Linked DNA regions of Homo sapiens: regions 2 and 3 are each linked to region 1. The links come from fine-mapping of genetic effects on gene expression. A gene starts in region 1. Each other region holds a variant in brackets. All regions are shown on one strand. Distances are between the middles of the regions. Region 1 holds the start of PPP1CB-DT (PPP1CB divergent transcript). Region 2 overlaps PPP1CB (protein phosphatase 1 catalytic subunit beta). Region 3 has its middle 5.6 kb from the start of SPDYA.

The links.
Region 2: its variant is fine-mapped to the expression of PPP1CB-DT in whole blood (INTERVAL, PIP above 0.99).
Region 3: its variant is fine-mapped to the expression of PPP1CB-DT in whole blood (TOPMed, PIP above 0.99).

Annotation. Positions count from the first base shown.
Region 1 is chr2:28,750,677-28,753,438 of GRCh38, forward strand. It overlaps PPP1CB-DT (PPP1CB divergent transcript), which reads right to left and starts at 1,080. Exons shown (of 5, transcript XR_007086259.1): 1 at 967-1,080. PPP1CB (protein phosphatase 1 catalytic subunit beta) reads left to right here and starts at 1,154. Exons shown (of 8, transcript NM_002709.3): 1 at 1,154-1,500. The coding sequence starts at 1,449. RefSeq lists enhancers at 567-776, 1,080-1,724 and silencers at 907-1,096, 1,587-1,806.
Region 2 is chr2:28,796,720-28,799,481 of GRCh38, forward strand. PPP1CB (protein phosphatase 1 catalytic subunit beta) reads left to right here. Exons shown (of 8, transcript NM_002709.3): 8 at 2,480-2,762. The coding sequence ends at 2,584. Among named protein-coding and RNA genes, the nearest start is that of SPDYA, 13 kb to the right of the region's middle. The variant T/C (reference allele first, on the strand shown) is at 1,263.
Region 3 is chr2:28,803,852-28,806,613 of GRCh38, forward strand. No RefSeq gene overlaps it. Among named protein-coding and RNA genes, the nearest start is that of SPDYA, 5.6 kb to the right of the region's middle. The variant G/C (reference allele first, on the strand shown) is at 1,096.

The DNA of each region.
Region 1 (2,762 bases):
CACAGGGCAGTTGTAAGGATTAAATGAGGTAACCCGGGTGTAACATTTAAAACAGTGGCAGAGTACATACAGGGATCTGAACAAATGTTAGCTACTATTAGTGATATGTGAGTGGGGGAAGCACACTGCCTTGGACTTGAGGCAATATCAAGTCTGAGTTTCTGGAAAAACACTTGTGGAATAAGTAAGGGCTGGCCACCTCCTAAAACCGGACAAAAGATCTGGCTTGCCTAGATCCTTAGCGTGACTGCTTCTCCTCCTGCCTTTCTAGAGGCAGTATTACGTGATGGAAATACTTGGTGGGTGCTGTGGGCACAAAGATAAGTTAATGTGTTTTTATTCCCTAGGAGCTGAGTCGAGAGTAGGAGAAAAATGCATAAATAATTACCAGGTAGGATGATTAAGCAATATACTGGAGGCAGCAACAGAAACACACCGTGGAAAAAAAATACCCACGGCGTGGATGAAGATATGAGATGTGTGAAAGCGCTAGACACAGGCAGCCACCTGCACCCATGTAAAATTGGATTATTGCTGACTCCTACAAGGCCCACTTTAACGCTTCTTTCAACCAGAATCCCTGCAGAACTAATTTTGTAGAACCGCCGGGGATAAAGACCTTTATTTGCAATGTCGAACTCCAGCAGAGTAACCCCTTTTGCTTTCCACACGCGCAAACCCGGGTCCCAAACGCTGCAGTTCGCGTTTCCCGGCTAACGGAAGAAACACGAGGAACTGTTTGCAGATCTAGGGGATGAAGCCAAAAAACGGAAAGCGAGGCCGAAAGGGCGCAACCACCACGTCTGGAGGAGGCCAGTGAAGTAGAGAAAGGGGAAGGTCAGCCCTGCCCCAGCGCGCTCTGCGTAACCGGGACTTCCTCCGCGCGGCAAAGCCGGGGAACCTCCCTGGCGCCTGCGCCACCGTGGCGAGACTCGGCGCCGTGGACGTGGAGAGAGGGCGACGCACCTGCGCGAAGACGGCAGCGGGAGAAGCCGCTCCAGTGCGGTTGCGCGGCGGCCCAGGCGTCGAGGGGAGCCTCGGCGGGGAGCGCACCGCGCGCCTGCGCGGAGAGCTGCGTGACGCGGCGGCGCGCAAGGGACGTGCGGAGTGAGTGGCGCTGCGGGTGGGGCCGTCGGCGGCGCTGGTGAGCTTTGCGGAGCTGGGCGGTGCCGAGGAGGAGGAGGTGGCGGCCTGGGTCTGACGCGGCCCTGTTCGAGGGGGCCTCTCTTGTTTATTTATTTATTTTCCGTGGGTGCCTCCGAGTGTGCGCGCGCTCTCGCTACCCGGCGGGGAGGGGGTGGGGGGAGGGCCCGGGAAAAGGGGGAGTTGGAGCCGGGGTCGAAACGCCGCGTGACTTGTAGGTGAGAGAACGCCGAGCCGTCGCCGCAGCCTCCGCCGCCGAGAAGCCCTTGTTCCCGCTGCTGGGAAGGAGAGTCTGTGCCGACAAGATGGCGGACGGGGAGCTGAACGTGGACAGCCTCATCACCCGGCTGCTGGAGGGTGAGTGCGCGCCTGGCCGCGGGACAGAGGGAGGTCGGGCACCGCCGCCGACCCCTGCGTCCCCGTCTGCCGCCGGAACGCGAGGGGACCCCTTTCCCGCCCCGAGACGAGTCTCTGGGAGCGCGGCGCGGCGGACGAACCGAGGAGGGGGCGAGGAGGCTCTGGGCGCGGGGGAGCGGCCTCTGGGAGCGCGGTCAGGGGAGATCGGGGGAGAGGGGGCCGTTCCCGCGGACCCTCGGGGGCCAGGCCCGCCGGCCGAAGGCTGTGCGGAGCGGGTCTGCGGGAGACAGCCTTTCGGAAAGGCCGCCGGGCTCCGCGCGCCGTGGTGCTCGCCTCCGGTGACCCGAGGATGGGGAGAGGATGCCTGCCACTGGGCTTTGTGCGTCCGTGGAATCACTGTTCTTCTCTGTTCTCTTTGTGCATTGCCCTTGGCTGCCTCCGATTGTCGTTCCGGGAGTGAATTTTACGTATATATATATAAACCTGTCCTTAACAGGACTGCTTCGTCTGCTCTGCATTTTTACACAATGCTATATAGAATGGATTCTTCTTAAAGAGAGGATAAAATTAGCGGGAATTAATCTACCGTTTGTTACTTGGCCTAAAAAAATTGTAAGACAAGATATTTGATCAGGTTGAAGATGCACCTAAGAAATGTGATGTATGTAGATGGGTTTGCTGAAGGGATTGGCTTTTGCATTTGATTTGAGCAGAGCTTAATTTCTGCACAAACTTAGTGAAAATCTATTTTTAAAGCCTGTCTTGTATTCGAAAGGTATTTGTAGGTCTACGCAGCATTTGAACTTTCCGGGCTCAAGTGTTCTTATTGAATAGTTTTATGTTGGTGGGAAGGCAAGGGGGGAAAACGAAGAGGTGGACTAGCCGGGAGTTAAATGTATTGATTCATTGCAGGATATTATTCAAAGTTAAATGCAGTCTTCTGCCAAACAGTCCCTCTACCCTAAAGTTTTCGTCATCAATAATTGTTTTGTGAGTGTGTAGAAAAGCCTTTAATCCTTTTTAAACAATTTAGAGGCCTCTTTGTTAGCCGCCGTCCAGCGATTGCATATGTACTGTTTGCTTTCAAATTACCTTAAGATAATTGCTAGAGTGAAGCAGTATGTACTTATATTTGGAAAATCATCAAAGAATATTGTAATGGGGGAGGGGTAATTCCTTTTTCTCAAAGTATGTGTCGGTATCTCAAACCCAAGTTCTGTGAGTACCTGTTCTGTAACTAAATACTGTGTATTTGCTCCAGA
Region 2 (2,762 bases), 46 kb after region 1:
TAAAGATTGTTTATCTTCCTCTCTTCTTATTTGGATGCCTTTTATTTCTTTATCTTGCCTGATTACTCTGGCAGGGACTTTCAGTACTCTGTTGAATAGGGGTGGTGAGAATGGTCATCCTAGTCTCTTGTTCCAGTTCTCAAGGGGAATGCTTCCAGCATTTCCCTTTTCAGTACGATGTTGGCTGTGGGTTTGTCAGATGGCTCTTACTATTTTGAGGTATGTTCCTAATTTTTCAGTGCCTAATTTGTTGAGGGTTTTTAACATGAAAGGGTGTTGAATTGTATTGAAAGCCTTTCTGCATCTATTGAGATGATCATATGGTGTTTGTTTTTAATTTTATGAGGTGAATCACATTTATTGATTTGCATATGTTGAAACCTTGCACCCCAGGAATAAACCCTTCTTGATTGTGGTGAGTTAACTTTTTGATGTGTTGCTGGATTCGGTTTTAGTATTTTGTTGACGATTTTGCATCTGTGTTCATCAGGGATATTGGCCTGAGGTTTTCTTTTTTCCTTGTGCCTCTGCTAGGTTTTGGTATTACAATGATGCTCACTTCGTAGACTGAGTTAGGGGGGAGGTCCTCTTCCTGGATTGTTTGGAATAGTTTCAGTAGGATTGGTACTAGCTCTTTGTACATCTGATATAATTCAGCTGTGAATCTTTCTGGGCCAGGGCTTTTTTTGGTTTATAGGTTTTTTTATTACTGATTCAGTTTTGGAACTTGTTATTGTTCTGTTCAGGATTTTAATTTCCTCCTGGTTCAGTCTTCGGAGTTTGTGTGTGTTTCTATGAATTTATTCATTTCTTAGGAGGTCATGTGTGTTTCTATGAATTCATTTCTTGGGAGCGCATGTGTGTTTTTGTGAATGTATTCATTTATTCTAGGTTTCCTAGTTTGTGTGCACAGGTGTTTATAATCTCTAGGTATTTTGTATGTCTGTGGGGTTGGTTGTAATGTCACCTTTCTCATTTCAGATTGTGCTTATTTGGATCTTTTCTTAATCTAGCTAGCAGTCTATCTTGTTTATTCTTTTGAAGAACCAACTTTTGGTTTCAACATTTACATTTTTAAAAGAGGCCAGTTTTAGCTTTAGTGTGCTCCTACAAATCATTCTTGTTCACTGAGTAAAACAGCTTCAGTACTTTGCTTTTGCAAAGGCTATTCTATGTCTTTGATGTACACACACTGTATTTCTCTTAAAATGCATTGGGGCTTTCCCATTCCTCTTTCTCTTTATCATAATATACTGTTTCCA[T/C]CAATTAGTACAATTGAATGGTAAATGGTTGATTGCTCATTTACAAATTAAATATAGTAACCATACCTTATCCTTCCAGCAGTTGTCATAGTGGTGTTGGATTAATATATTCTCTTCACTAAGGCACTATTATGTTCTAAATAGTTTTTAAAAAATACTTTGTACATATTTCTATACTGTTTTAGTTTTGGAAAATCATGACTTTTTTATGTATAATGTAGGTTAAAGCTCTATTTACATCCACCAGAATGAGTGTAGTAAAAAAGCCAGACTGTATCAAGTTTTGGCAAGGATTTGGAGGCATTAGAATCTTCATACATTAATGGTGGGAATAGAGTTCTCATATGATGCAGCAGTTTTACCTCTAGGTATATACCCAAGATATATGAAAACATGTTCACACAAAAACTGTTACATAAATGTGCATTATTCCTTATAGCCGAAAAAGTCACACAATTCAGATGTCCATCAGCTACTGAATAGATAAACTGTGGTACATCCATACAATGGACTGTACAATGTACAACTCAGCAATAAAAAGGAATGAAGGACTGATACTTCAAAACTGGTTTTGAAAACCTGAGTGAAAGAAGCCAGTCACAAAAGACCACATATTATATGATGCCAGTTATATGAAATGTTCAGAATAGGCAATTCTATAGAGACACATAGTAGATTAGTAGTTGGTTAGAGTTAGAGGATGTGGAGAGCAGGAATGGGGAGTGACTGCTGATGGGAACAAGCTTTCTTTTTGGGGTGACAAATGTTCTAAAATTAGATTTATATCAATAAAGCTGTTTTTTAAGTAAAAAGATCTATTTATACATAAATAAATAAGGTCTGAAGGGTTTGTGACTTGTAGGTTAGTTACCCTCCTAAGTTACTGTATCAGAATTATGATGACAACATAGATCTTCTGACTCTTAAACCAGTGTTCTTTTCCTCACAACAGAGATACACTAAGTTCAAAAAGTTTTTTACTTAAATCTAAGGATTGGATAGTTGATAGAGTTAGTGTACTTTTGTTATTAAAATATGAGTGGAATGACAAAGTTCAGACATTTGCACACTTTAAGAAATGTTTATGGAACTTTGCTATTCTACATTTTTATTGCATTTTTGCAGTTTATGCCATTTATTGAAAATCACAATTGTAACAATTTTCTTAACTTCTGTACATGAAAAAATAACATTATTTGTTAATAATTTACTTTAAGATATTGAAACCATCTGAAAAGAAAGCTAAATACCAGTATGGTGGACTGAATTCTGGACGTCCTGTCACTCCACCTCGAACAGCTAATCCGCCGAAGAAAAGGTGAAGAAAGGAATTCTGTAAAGAAACCATCAGATTTGTTAAGGACATACTTCATAATATATAAGTGTGCACTGTAAAACCATCCAGCCATTTGACACCCTTTATGATGTCACACCTTTAACTTAAGGAGACGGGTAAAGGATCTTAAATTTTTTTCTAATAGAAAGATGTGCTACACTGTA
Region 3 (2,762 bases), 53 kb after region 1:
TTTTTGGAAAAAAAAAAAGCCAAAGAAACAAAACCAGAGTGTTGAAATGCTACCTCCAATATATGTATAACTCAAACTGATAATTGGCATGGTTTCTGACAGTGCTGCTGTTTACCAGCAGGTTATTGACAGACTGACACCTGTTCCATTCTTGAATAAATATAAACTTTGTCTCTCTAGCTCTTAGTTTAATAAAAATCCCTGAGAAGGAGGATGTGCAGGGTGGAGTTGCTGGAGAAAACTTAATGTCTTGTAGAACTCATAACTACTCAATTTACCAACTTAAAAATTAAGCTACATATTAGGAAATGTAGTTTATCACATGTAATAAGGAATTGAGATTATCAGGAAATCTTGGGTGAGGCTCAGGATCCAACATATAACTGGGCCCAGCACATAAAACTGTTACCTGACTTCAATAAGAAATTTTAGCCGGGCGCAGCGGCTCATGCCTGTAATCCCAGCACTTTGGGAGGCTGAGGCAGGCAGATCATGATGTCAGGAGATCGAGACCATCCTGGCGAACATGGTGAAACCCTGTCTCTACTAAAAACATAAAAAATTAGCTGGGCGTGGTGGCGGGCGCCTGTAGTCCCAGCTACTTGGGAGGCTGAGGCAGGAGAATGGCGTGAATCCGGGAGGTGGAGCTTGCAGTGAGCTGAGATCACGCCACTGCACTCCAGCCTGGGCGACAGAGCGAGACTCCATCTCAAAAAAAAAAAAAAAAAAATTTTAGAAACACAGATCTCTGCCTCCCAGTGTAATTGCCTCAGATTTTGTAGCACATCTCTTAACTGCAGCTTGATAATTCCACTGAAATTAATTCTATTGGTCATATTAAAGAACAGGTTAAAAAGTCTTTATTGCTGTACTGTAAAGCCTGTTTTGAGTGGAAGACCCTAATCTTCTTTTAGTGAATTCCCCAAACTCTGGGTATGCTCACTGACAACACAAGTTGTAATCCCTTTTTTTTTTTTTTTTTTGAGACAGGGTCTCACTCTCTCGCCCAGGCTGGAGTGCAGTAGCCTGATCACAGCTCACTGAAGCCTCAGCCTCCCAGGCTCAAGTGATCCTGCCGCCTTGGCCTCCCAAAGT[G/C]CTGGGAGAATTATAGGCATGAGCCATCATGCCCAGCCCATTTTATTTTTAATATATCATCAATTATTTCTTATACAGATCCATTAGGATGTTGAATGCTCCTTTAAAACTTTGTTGTATTTGTCGGCCAGGCGCGGTGGCTCATGCCTGTAATCCCAGCACTTTGGGAGGCCGAGGCGGGCCGATCACGAGGTTAAGAGATCGAAACCATCCTGGCCAACATGGTGAAACCCCGTCTCTACTAAAAAAAAAATACAAAAATTAGCTAGATGTGGTGCGCACCTGTAGTCCCAGCTCCTCGGGAGGCTGGGGCAGGAGAATCACTTGAACCTGGGAGGTGGAGATTGCAGTGATCCAAGATGGCACCATTGCACTCCAGCCTGGGCAACAAGGGAAACTCCGTCTCAAAAAAAAAAAAAAAACTTTGTTACATTTGTCTTTAAAAGTCATAAGGCCTAGATCAGTCTTGTATGTGACTAGAATGTAGCTCTATGGGCAGGGTTTTTTGTTTTTTTTTTTTTGAGACAGGGTCTTGCTATGGTGCCCAGGCTGGAGCACAGTGGCACAATCTCAGCTCACTGCAACCTCCTGGGCTCAAGCCATCCTTCCACCTTAGCCTGCGTAGTAGGTGGGACTACAGGCATGTGCCACCATACCTGCTAATTTTTGTAGAGTGGGGGGTTTTACCATGTTCCCTAGGATGGTCTCCAACTCCTGAGCTCAAGTGATCCGCCCACCTCAGCCTCGCAAAGTGTTGGGATTACAGGCATGAGCCATTGCGCCCATGCAGGTATTTTTTTTCTCTTTTGTTCACTGATTCGTATCTCCTTATCGTAGAGTGGCGCCTGCCACATAGGAGGCCTGCAGATACTTGCTTAATGAATGGCAAGTGGGTGTCAAAAATCTCTACTTGTATTACTGTTTTGACACCTTGACCTGAAGAAGTTAACCACAAATAATAAAATTCCAGTTTTTCTTTATCCTCATGTAACTGCTTTTGTCTCTTATGACAAGAATGCTGAAGTTTCAAGGAGAAAATTGATTTGAGTCTGTACTGCCAAAATAAATGGTTTGTCAAAACTCTGGCCCCTACTTTGTAAACTATTGGTAAGTTTAAGAAGTCAGCCAGGCACGGTGGCTCACGCCTGTAATCCCAGCAGTTTGGGAGGCCAAGGCTGGCAGGTCACTTGAGATCAGGAGTTCGAGACCAGCCTGGCCAACATGGGAAAACCCTGTCTCTACTAAAAGTACAAAAATTAGCCAGGCCTGGTGGCACACACCTGTAATCCCAGCTACTCGGGAGGCTGAGTTTCTTGAAGGAGCATTTTGCAGCTAGCACCTGACAGGCATAGTGGAGAAGTTGCCTGTTACTGAGAACAAACATCGCAAGATCCTCAGGATTACTTTCTTTCCTCCCCTTTCTATAGTCTCTATTCTGTTTTCTTGATCTTAATGTCACCTTTGTAGTGAGCCACCTCACATATTTTAGGAAAGTTGTATAATTTGTGTAATATTTTGTCTTTCAGAATTCATCCAGTAAGTATGAGCACTTAAAACTAGGAATCGAACTTGGAGAGGCTGTTGCCTCATCTAGCACAAGTATGTCATAGGCAGTATGGAGAAAGATCAACTATCTTTTCAGTAAGGAACAAAAAAGTCTGATACAG